Regions from separate parts of the Homo sapiens genome. Here region 2 is linked to region 1. Evidence: fine-mapped QTL for protein levels in blood plasma. Region 1 holds a variant in brackets. A gene starts in the other region. All regions are shown on their reverse strands.

Evidence for each region. PIP is the posterior inclusion probability: the model's chance that the variant is causal. The UK Biobank Pharma Proteomics Project read protein levels with antibody pairs (Olink). The fine-mapping took linkage between variants from a reference panel, not from the people measured, so its PIPs are less certain.
Region 2: it holds the start of TSHB, and the variant in region 1 is fine-mapped to the plasma level of the TSHB protein (UK Biobank, PIP above 0.99).

Annotation. Positions count from the first base shown.
Region 1 is chr11:45,206,144-45,211,521 of GRCh38, reverse strand. All of the region lies in intron 5 of PRDM11 (PR/SET domain 11), which reads right to left. Among named protein-coding and RNA genes, the nearest start is that of PRDM11, 62 kb to the right of the region's middle. RefSeq lists enhancers at 1-626, 627-1,374, 1,375-2,122. The variant C/A (reference allele first, on the strand shown) is at 3,012.
Region 2 is chr1:115,027,041-115,032,418 of GRCh38, reverse strand. It overlaps TSHB (thyroid stimulating hormone subunit beta), which reads right to left and starts at 2,593. Exons shown (of 3, transcript NM_000549.5): 1 at 2,559-2,593.

The sequences.
Region 1 (5,378 bases):
ACAGACTGCTCCTTGCAGCCGGACACAGGGAGGGGGCCCAGCCTCTGCACATGTGGGTCCTGCTTTCTGGTGACCAAGGGTATGGGCTGATCCCTGTGGCAGGATTAAATGATGTATGGGCTGACCCTACTGACAGGCAAGCCCTCCCTGCCTGGATCTGCGGACTCAACTCAGAACCACCCCCCAGGAAGGTGATGGGGAGGACAGACAGGTTTATCTTACAGTTACCTCATGCCTCCCAGGGGTCCTGGGGGCTCACTTGGGCCAGCTTGGTAAGAGTCCTGTGTCTCTTGGCAGTGTTTGGTGGGACAGCAGCCATCCCCTGAGATCCCAGAGACCTGTCTAGCATGGCCAGTGTTGGAAGGAGTGAGACCCGGCGAGGTGATGCTGCTCCTTCCCTCCCAGGTCCCCGTTCTGCCAAGCCCCTGGCCGAGTGCTGCCGCAGCTGGCCACTGCCAGGAAAAGGAGGGCTGTGAGCCTGCCATGGGGGTGAGCGGGCTCTGCCTGATGGCACACTCGGGCTCCCTGCCAGCCCAGGTTACCTTTGGTGGCCTCATTACATTCAGTCTCAGGGAGATGGAGGGGTGAGCGGAGCAGGATGCAGGGAACAGGCTTTACTGGATGCTGACCCCCCCATTTTTTCTTATCACGGGGTGGAATCCTCTTAAGACTTAGGAAAACACTGATTCACAGGAAGCCAGCAGACCCGGGTTCAAGTCCTGCTTCTGAATTGAGCTCAGGGCCACCTTGGTTTTCAGAGCTTACTTTCTGCATTGCAAGGAAGTTGAACTAAATGGTCTCCATGTTCTTTTCCAGTCCTAAACATCTGACTCTGTGAACTGCCACCTGTCAGGAGCCCCAGCCAAACAGGAAGCAAGTGGATCACAATGGCAGGGGGCCCGGGAAGGGAAGGTGCAAGTGAGTCTTTGCAAAGCACCTTCCCATGGGCTGAGCCACGGCTGCTTCCCTGGGGCCCCTCCTGCCTGGCTCCCACCACTCACGAGCCGGTCAGGCAGACGGCCTCTAGTGGGGACTGCAGCTGGCGGGGCACGGGGGAGATGTGCAGAAGTGGAAAGGAAGGGTTGCAGTCCCTGCGGAGGCCTTTAGTGCTCCCCCTTCTGCTGAGCCCCAACTAGAACTCCAGCCCCAAGGGACACCCGCCTCGGCCGCTGGGGCCCTGGCTTCAAAGTGCATGTGAGACACAGGAAGTAGAGAGGAAAGGCAGGGACAAGTACAGAGGGAGAAGAGGGGTGGGGAGCGGGTGGCGGAGCAGCCAGGAGGATGGAGAGGGAGCTGAGAGGCAGCACACAGAAAAGTGGGGGCAGGCAGCGTGGCTCAGGCAGGGGAGTAATAATAGAGGAACAAAGCAGTCAGGACCAGACACAGAAAGGAACTGATCTTTCCATGGCCCGGCCCGGGCCTTCACAGCTTGGCCGCCTCGTCTCCAGCCCCCTCCCCCGCGCTGCTACACTTGGGCTTTCCTGGCTTCTCACTGTTCCTGGAACGTGCCAAGCGCCTTCCTGATGCGGGGCCTCGTACATGCTGTTCTCTGCCTGCGCGCCTCCCCTCCCCTTCTCCGCGCCCCACGCTGCTGCCTGGCCTGGTTAACTCTTACTCTTCACATCCTAGTCCGCTGGACTTCTTCAGGGAGCCCTCCCCAGTCCCCAGTGGAGCCAGTTTTACCCACTCCTTAACTCTCAGACAGAGCTGCTACATAACCTGCAGGGTCAAATGCAAAATGAAAACGTGGGGCCCCTGGCTCAAAAACTATGAAGAATGTCCAGATGGCGACAGCAGAGCCTGAAACCCCGCGGCCCCTGTGACTGTTCAGGTTGCATGCTCATGAAGTCAGCCCTGCTCTCGGGACCTCCTGGACTCCTGTGTCCTCCATCCCTTCGTTTCCAGTTTACTCGTGCAATTATTTAACGTTGGTTTATTCCTAGGAGTCCAGGGTCTCCCCAAGAGCAGGGCCTGCGTGGGGTTTACACACAGCTGTCTTCCCAGCTCCTAGCACGGCTCTGGCACGGAGATGCTCAGTAAATATTCGAGAATGAATGCAAAAAGGGATGGAGAGGAGAAGAGTGGGAGAAGGAGGGGAGGATGGAAAGAGTGGGCTGGACAGAGAGGGACAGGAGAGAACCAGAGGGAAAGTCGGTGGGAGACTGTGGACTGTAAGCTGGGGGGCAGGCAGCCGGCTGGGTGGCGGGGGGGACTGGTGATACTCACAGCTGGTCGAAGGGCTGTCGGTGCCATCCAGTTCCGCCCTGGGGAAGCCGCGCCCTGCACGGGCCGTGAGCAGCGCCGACTTGATGGCCCTCTCGTGGGCCGTGAGCACGATGGTGGGGGCCCGGCCCCCGGCCCCAGGGCCCGACAGGGACTGCTGCATGAAGGCCAGCTTGTCCTTGGTCCTCCGTTTCATGTCATCCCATCTGTGCTTAATGTCCTTGACGGAGCGGGGCACCTGGCTGACGGAGGTGATTTTCCGGGCTATGCCTTCCCAAATCTTGTCCCTGTCAGCATGGGACAGCCGCATGGTCTCCCTCCCAAAGAGCACTGCTTCATGGTGGGTCACCTCTGTGACAAGAATGTCCAGCTCCTCCTTGGAGAACTTGGGCTTCCTCTTACGCTCAGCCAGGTGTGCCACATTCCTTGGGTTGAATATCCCACAAAGCACAATTGGGTAAATGACCGTCAATGCAGGTGGTTCTCCTTCCTAATTGCTGGCCCCCAGCTGGGGAGCCAGGAGGCACCTGGGGCAACCTGGCCCCCACCACACCCTCCTCCTACTGAGAGGTCCCTTCCACTACTCCTCGGAGGGGAGGGTGGAAAGAAGAGACGGCGTTACATGGGAGGGAGCACTGAACTCAGAGTCGAAGGCCTTGGTTTCAGGGCCTGCTTTAGCTCTTACTAGCGGTGAGAGCTAGGGCAGTTCATGTTCAACCTTTCACACCTTATTCTCCCTGTCCAGAATAACAACCACAACTCTTCGGGTTTATTACTAAGGAGGGAAA[C/A]ACATCATGATGTAAGGGGCTTAAAATCTCTTAAAGATAGCAGTAAAGGATCTTATTGAAATTAGGATTAGCCCATTGCCTCTATAAAGCGATATTTACCTACAGCCCTACAGCTGAATGAATGGCTCGGAAGAATACGTAACCAGGGAAACTATTTACACTGGCTACCGTTGGGTGTAGCAGTGACAATGCCATGATTAGGGTGTGGCCACAGAAAGCTTATTCTGCCTAGTGGCTCTCTTCCCCTTCCCCGTCCCGGTCAGTTCTCCAAGCCCCCACCTTTGCATATGTGCAGGCAAACAGGTTTCCTTCCCATGGGAGTGCTTTCTTCGGGGGTGGGCTGCTGTGACTTTTTGGTAGAATTTGAGAAGCCCACGACTGTCCTGAGGGAGTCAAGTTCCACTTTGGTGGACACCAGGGGGACCTGGGATTCCCTCTCAACTGAGCAGCCAGAGGCCCTGGGCAAGGGGCACAGCATGGCCCTTCCATCCCACTTGGCTCCTGCTCTGGCTTTGGAACTTGATTTCTCCACATCGTGGCTCTGTCACCCTTTTAACTAGTGATAAAAGGTGAAAAAATCCACCCAAGAGAGGACATGAGGGTATGGAGGAAAGCTCAGAGCGCATTCACTCCTTGGTTTCCTTCTGAAACCAAGAGGGGAAGGCCGGCGGCACCAACATCCTTCAGCCCTCACCTTCCTACTCAAGCACCCAAAACACCAGGGCCCAGAAGATGGGAAGAAGGCTGGGGGCCTCATTACCCAGTCCAAGATGGTGGCAGGAATATGGGACTAGACCTGGAACTAGAGACTGAGTCTCCTTGGGCCAAGCCATGGGACTCGTGTGAACCCAGTCTCCTTCTCCATAAAACTAGGGTGACAATTCTAGTGTCACTGTCCAGGGCTATCAGGAGGACTTAATGTGGGTGTCTCAATCTTGCCACTATTGGCAGTTGGGGCTAGAAAATTTTTCGTTGGGGGGAAGGGGTGTCCTGTGTAATGCAGGATTTTATCAACATCCTTGGCTTCTATCTGATAGCATCCAACCATCAAACATGTCTCCAGGCCTTGCCAAATGCCCCCAGGGGCACAAAATAGTGCTCGGTTGAGAACCACCACAGACAGATCACCTAGATGGGGCTGTCATAAAGATAAGCTCAACACGACAGTGCCCATTCGCCTCCTGGCCCACCATTAATTTTGTTAAGAAACTAACAGAGTCCATTCAATCATCCCCAAGCGGTGCCATGACAGTGCAAAGGAGAGCATCTGCAAGTCAGAAAGAGCCACACCACGGAAGCTGGACATGAAGGGAAAGGAGGATTCCCAGGATTAACAGCTTTCCCGTCACTCCAACAGCAACAGGAGGGGCGTCTCCGTGGCAACAAACTGCATCCCTAACCCAAACCTGCTCTTTGAGTGGTCATAAGATGAGAGCCCACCAGCTGTGACTACCCAGATGCCATCTTGAATCAGGACAGGCTGGGAGCAGAACAGGACAGAAACCATGCTAGCAAGGTGGCAGTAGCAGAAACCCCCAAACCCCTGCTCACCAGTGCCCATCCAGGCCCAGGAAGCCACGCTTCACCTGGTCCCTTGTGCACAAGCAGGAAGAACACCGACCTAGGATTACAGAGCCAGGAGTTCAAATCCTGATTCTGCTACCCTGACTGTATGCTCTTAAGCAAGACCTTGCCCTGCTCTCAGCTTGACCACTGTGGCATGAAGATCTGTACAGAGCAGTGGTTCTCAATGCTAGTGGCACATCAGAATCACTAGCTTTAAAAATACCAAGGCCCAAGGCCAATCCCCAGCCCAATTAAGTCACAATCTGCGGGGTGCCAGAGGATAGATAAGTTAGTTTGGATGATAGCTCCCCTTTTTTGGGGTTTTGAGAAGGCCTTGTCCCCAGGGGGAAAGATCAGAGATGGGTGAAAGAGTGGAACAGATTCGGTTCTATGGGCAAAGCTCCCGGCGCCTTAAAAGCAATAGCACAGAAAGCCTGATTCCCAAGTGGACACACGCACGGTCTCCCCTGCTTGCCTGGAGCCAGGCTGCAGCCACAGGGCAGGCAGCACAGCAGCACAGGCTTGGGGTCCAAACTGAGCAGCCGCCCAACAGCCTGACTAGACACCACAACCCAGTGTCCCCAGACACAATCCTGGCCCCTTTGAAGGCCCATGTCAACGAACCCCTCCTCTTTCATCTGGGCCTCTGCAGCACATTGTGCCTCGGTGCAAAAACTACACTGGAAAGTCACCTCTGTGGTAGGAGGTGTGAGCCCGGGAAGGGCCAGCGGGGGTGGGGCATGGGGTGTGGTGGGGCAGGGCTGGGTGATCCACCCTGGTACCCATTTCACAGTCTGACTC
Region 2 (5,378 bases), not on the chromosome of region 1:
TACCAAGATTTCCCCAAATCTGTCAGTTATATCCCAACAGCATCTTTAAGCTATATACACTAAAACCTCTGTAAACTGAAACCTCATAGGTTCGGCCTTGGTTAACCAGGATTTTTTTTTCAATCAACTTATAAGAAACCATGAAAACCACATTACACAGGTTACCAGGGATTTATTTTAAATGTCAAATTCCAGAGATCAGTGGTCATTTCAATCAACCTTCTATTCCTAGAATGAGAATTGTAGATAAATTAGATAAACATATATTGAGCATCTGAACCAGGCACTGACAAACACAAACGGAAAAGCTACGGTCCTTTACCTAAAGGGCTGACTGTCCAGTGGAGGAGCTAATATGAACACAAATAATAAAAACGCAGATTGTTCTAGTGCTCTGAAAGAGTCCAAATTAAGACTTTAAGACCTACAATTATCAAAGATTTATGTTTACTATACTTCTTATTACACAAGAAAGTAAACTAACCCATTTTAGGAAGACTTAACTTTTAAAGGTTAAAATAACAGGGGTTTTTCTCACAAATTCTTTTAAATGAAATGTTGCATATTCAAACATTCCACGGAAGGTTTGTTTGGTATTTGAGTTAAGGAGCAAAAACATACAAATTCCTTACTCATGGAATCTGGCTTTCTCAAGCGCTTCTCAAATGTGAGCTCCCTCTATGGTACAGAGTTGCTTCCAGTATTTTAGAGATACAGAACTTGATGATCCTCTGTAGGATCTTAAAATTACTAACTGGTAAATTATGTAAAATGCTTACCCATCATGGCCATTATAGTTCTTGCTTGTTTAGACAGCCAGCTACTGAGTTTTTTCTATAGGAAACAACTAACTTCACATATTTTAACTTTTAGCTCTATAATTCTGTATAAAATCAATGTGGTGACCTGGTGATGAAAATATTGGTCTAAAAATTAAGAAACAGAATTCTTCCATAAATCTATGAGAACTTGACTAAAATATATAATCTGTTTGAGTGTTATTTCCCCATCTGCAAAATAGAAAGTGACAAGTACACCTGACCCTTTTTAAAATGTAGGATGAAAATTTGTTTTGGTTTTCCTATTGTCATACTAACTATGGATACTCTATATTTTTTTGAAGTTTCTCCTATAAATGTAGAACTCTAAACTAACAAAAGTAGAAAATGGAAGTGCTGAATTACCAGCCACAGTATCTGTACAACTTTGTGGGCATAAAGAAAGCAAGAACTTTTCTTTTCCTTTACTTCTTTATTGCGAATAGTAAAACTTCACCCACAGAATCTTTCTGGGCCTCAACTTTCTCACCTATAAAAGCAGGGCTTAGAGCCAGAAGATGATCATGAAAATCTTCGCAGCACAAATAGTCTGTAATTCTATATGATAAATTAGTGTCAGATCTGATTGATTGATTAAGAGTTAGTGATCTAAATTCTACTTAAGGATTTAATTGTAATTGTGTGCAACTGAGCAATTTAATATCTTTGTGCCTTCATTTTTCCATATGTCCCTTCCTAAAATCATAAAAAGAATAAAACAATACATGTGAAACACTTGGCTCTCTATATAAGAAAGATCACATAGCTGTATAACACTGTACAAATCCGCGTTAGTTAATCCCTTCCTCTGTGATATGCCACAATTTCTTCCTCATTGTCATCTGGGTTCTCATCTTTGCCACTTAATTGCTTATTCTGAAATCACCATGAATAATTTGTTGGGTACCTAAACATAGAAGGCATGGTTTCAGGCAGGGCCTAAATAATGAGATGCCTTCTTCAGATGCATGGACATATATGTCCCTACTTTGAACGTATTTTCTTATTCCAAGATATGTTCTTTCCTTTGCCTCTTTCCTCTCTTTTTTTCTCTTATTTTTGCTCCCAATGCTTCATTCTTAATAAACACTTTCCTCTCTGCTCTGCTAATTTCCTTCATTAATTTTTACTCTCCAAATCCCTTACTATGAAAAGAACTAATTGCCCATCCTATGAATAATCCTGGAACTTCACTAAAGCAGTATATTTTTCTAGAAAGCAAAATGTACTATACAGCAGCTGTGTGTGTGTTGAACACTATCAAAGGAGGTTTAGCTATTAAATAACTAAAAAGAACTTATAATACAGAGTACATTACCCCAGCAGGTACTCAAAAATGAATTTGCTCTAACATTCCCGGAAGTACATTTTCATAAAAGATGGCCATTAGTACAGTAATTGAGAGGATTTAATACACACATCATTAAATGGACAACAATATTTAAATCAAAATGAAAACAGAAGAAAGCCATGAATATCAAATATCCTTCATTAGGGAACTAATCAGTTGTTTCTCTTTCTTTAAGTCAATGAATTTTTTCCTTATCCTTATGTAGGTAGTTCTCTCACCTCCATCTACTACTAAACAATTTGGAGCAGTAATTTAAGATATTACAGCCTGTTGAAGCAAATTATCTTTCAGCATTTGCCACTTTCTAAAAAATGATAAAATGGTGAAAGTGAAAAAAAATAGCTTAAGAACATATCATTTCACAGAGCCTTCTCACTATAGACACCTACCTTACTTTGCATTGGTGAGCAGATGCTGTGGTGACCCAAACTAAAAGCTCTTGGTTCATTTTATACCCTTCAGGATAATCCCTCTGATCTTCTTGTTTATACAATTGCATTTGATTTACTGCTTTCTTATCTGAAAAGCATCTATTGAAAATTCATACTGAATTCCAAATAAAATGTATTTAGACAAACAAGCTCACAATATCTTTACCTGGAAACTGACATTATTAAAGCATGCATTTTCCTCTCTTCTGTTTCAAAATAAAATTACCTTTTAAATATATTCTTTATTAATATTTATTTATTAATATTAATAAAAGATAGATACAGAATGGGAAAAACCAAATTCAAAAAACACTCTAACATCATCTAAATAAGTCTTGGGAATAAAAATTTATTTGGGGCTTGAGGGCTTCAAGTTTTACCTAAATGTTCATGTAAAGATATATAAAATTATTCCTCATCTAAAAATTTTGTTTAGAACAAAATGTGTAGTTCAAAATATTTTTGGGGGATTTTAAGATATTAAGTAAAATTTACACATGTGAAAGAATGACTCTGAGGAACATGGCCACATCTGACAGGATGTCAAGCTGACCTGAGATAAAATTTTGGCCCTGCCATTTACTTGCCATATGACATTGGCATGCTTGACCTCTTCAGTTTCTATTAAAAGGTAATATCACTTCTCTAATGATTTGTGGTGTGAGCATTTTTTCATATGCTTATTGGCCATGTATATATCTTCTTTTGAAAAGTGTCTGTTTATGTCTTTTGCCCACTTTTTAACGGGGTTCTTCAGTTTTTGCTTATAAATTGTTTAAGCTCCTTATAGATTCTGGATATTAGACCTTTGTCAGATGCATAGTTTGCAAATATTTTCTCCCATTCTGTAGGTTGTGTGTTTATTATGTTGATAGTTTCTTTTCCTGTTACATCAGGTAACAAAAGTACACGATCCTAGAGAGATGGGAAACAAACAGGGAGAAACTGCCTGGAGAAAGTTTCTGGGCCATAATGCAGAAGCCCTTTAGTTAAAGGTCCCATTTGTCAACTTTTGTTCTTGTTGAAACTCCATTTGTCGTCTTCGTCATGAAATCTCTGCCCGGTCCTACATCTGGAATGATATTTCCTAGGTTATCCTCGAGGGTTTTTACAGTTTTAGGTTTTACATGTAAGTCTTTAATCCACGTTGAGTTGATTTTTCTATATGGTGTAGGGAAGGGATCCAGTTTCAGTCTTCTGCATATGGCTAGCCAGTTATCTCAGCACCATTTATTGTACAGGGAATCTTTTCCCCATTGCTTGTTTTTGTCAGTTTAATTGAAAAAAGAATGATTGTCAAATCAGGCAGCCCTCAGAATCAGAAGAGATTCACAGAGCTCTGCTCCTCAATGTGGGCAGACAGCATTTATGGACAGAAAGTAGAAATGAGATATCGAAACAGCTTGATTTCATTATACATCAGCACTTGCCTTACTTGGACAAAGTCTGATCAGCTGGCTGCCTGTAATTGACTGAAGCTCAGCTGCTGTGATGAGCTGAAATTCAGCTGTCTGTTACAAAAGTATACTCCTAAGTTAGGCTTTCAGGTAGTGTACATACTAAGTTAGGTTGCAGTTCATTATGTAGGAACTCACAAAACAGAGGTATCCTCAGGCCACATTTAGTTTAACAGATATATACCTAGAAATGGCCATGCCAGGGTCCAAGGTCTTGGGAATGTGAGCTACTATGTAGTAAGATAATTTTGAAAACAGGGAAACTGGAAATGAGTGTGCCAACCTAATTTCAGACAAGATGCTAACACAGGAATATGATAAATGGAAGAATGTTGGATGTGTGTTTCTAATGGAATTAGTGCCTCCTTTGTATAAAGCATTGATTCAGGAACTCATTTTCTAGCGGATTTATATACCTATCCCTGGGAGATATATGTATGTATGTGTGTGTGTACATATGTAATGGACAACTGATAGACACTTGGCCTGTTACTAAAAGAACTATAATAAATACCATGCATTTGGGTAGTGATTTTCTTGCTAAAGAGGCCTTAGTGTATATGATCTCATACTGTTAAAAGAATCCAGGCATGTTGAATTTGTGCTTCTGATCCAGGTTTACTTTCTCACCTAAAATAATTATAAAACAGTACAAAATATATAAAATAATGTCTTTATACATATTGGACATCAGGTAACAAAAGTACATGATCCGAGAGAGATGGGAAACAAACAGGGAGAGACTGCCTGGAGAAAGTTTCTGTGCCATAGTGCATGAAAAGTTACCAAGGCAGAGGCCAGAAGCATCACCAAATTGAAGAGATAGACCTGGGAGTCCATGGATCCCCAAGGCAGCTAGAGTTCACAAGAAAGACATTATCAAAAAAGAAAACCACAAACTAATAACCCTCATGAAATGAACATAGATGCAAAAATTCTTCACAAAATTTAACAAAACAAAATAAACAATATGTAAAAAGAATAATACATCATGGTCGAAGTGGAATTTATTTCAGGAATGCGAGTTTAGTTTGCATTCAATTAAGAAAATTCACCCTACTAACGGGCTAAAAACTAAAAGCCTTATGATGATCCCAATGGAAACACACACACACACACAACCACATACACAAAAAGCATTTTACAAAATCCAACATAGATTCCTGAAAAAATTTTCGGCAAACTTGGAATAGAAGAAAACCTCCTAACTTAATAAAAGGCATCATGGAAAATTTATGATTAATATCATGCTTAATATTGAAAGACAGAGTACGTTTACTCTAAGATCAGGAAAAAGGCAAAAACGTCTGCTTTTGCATCT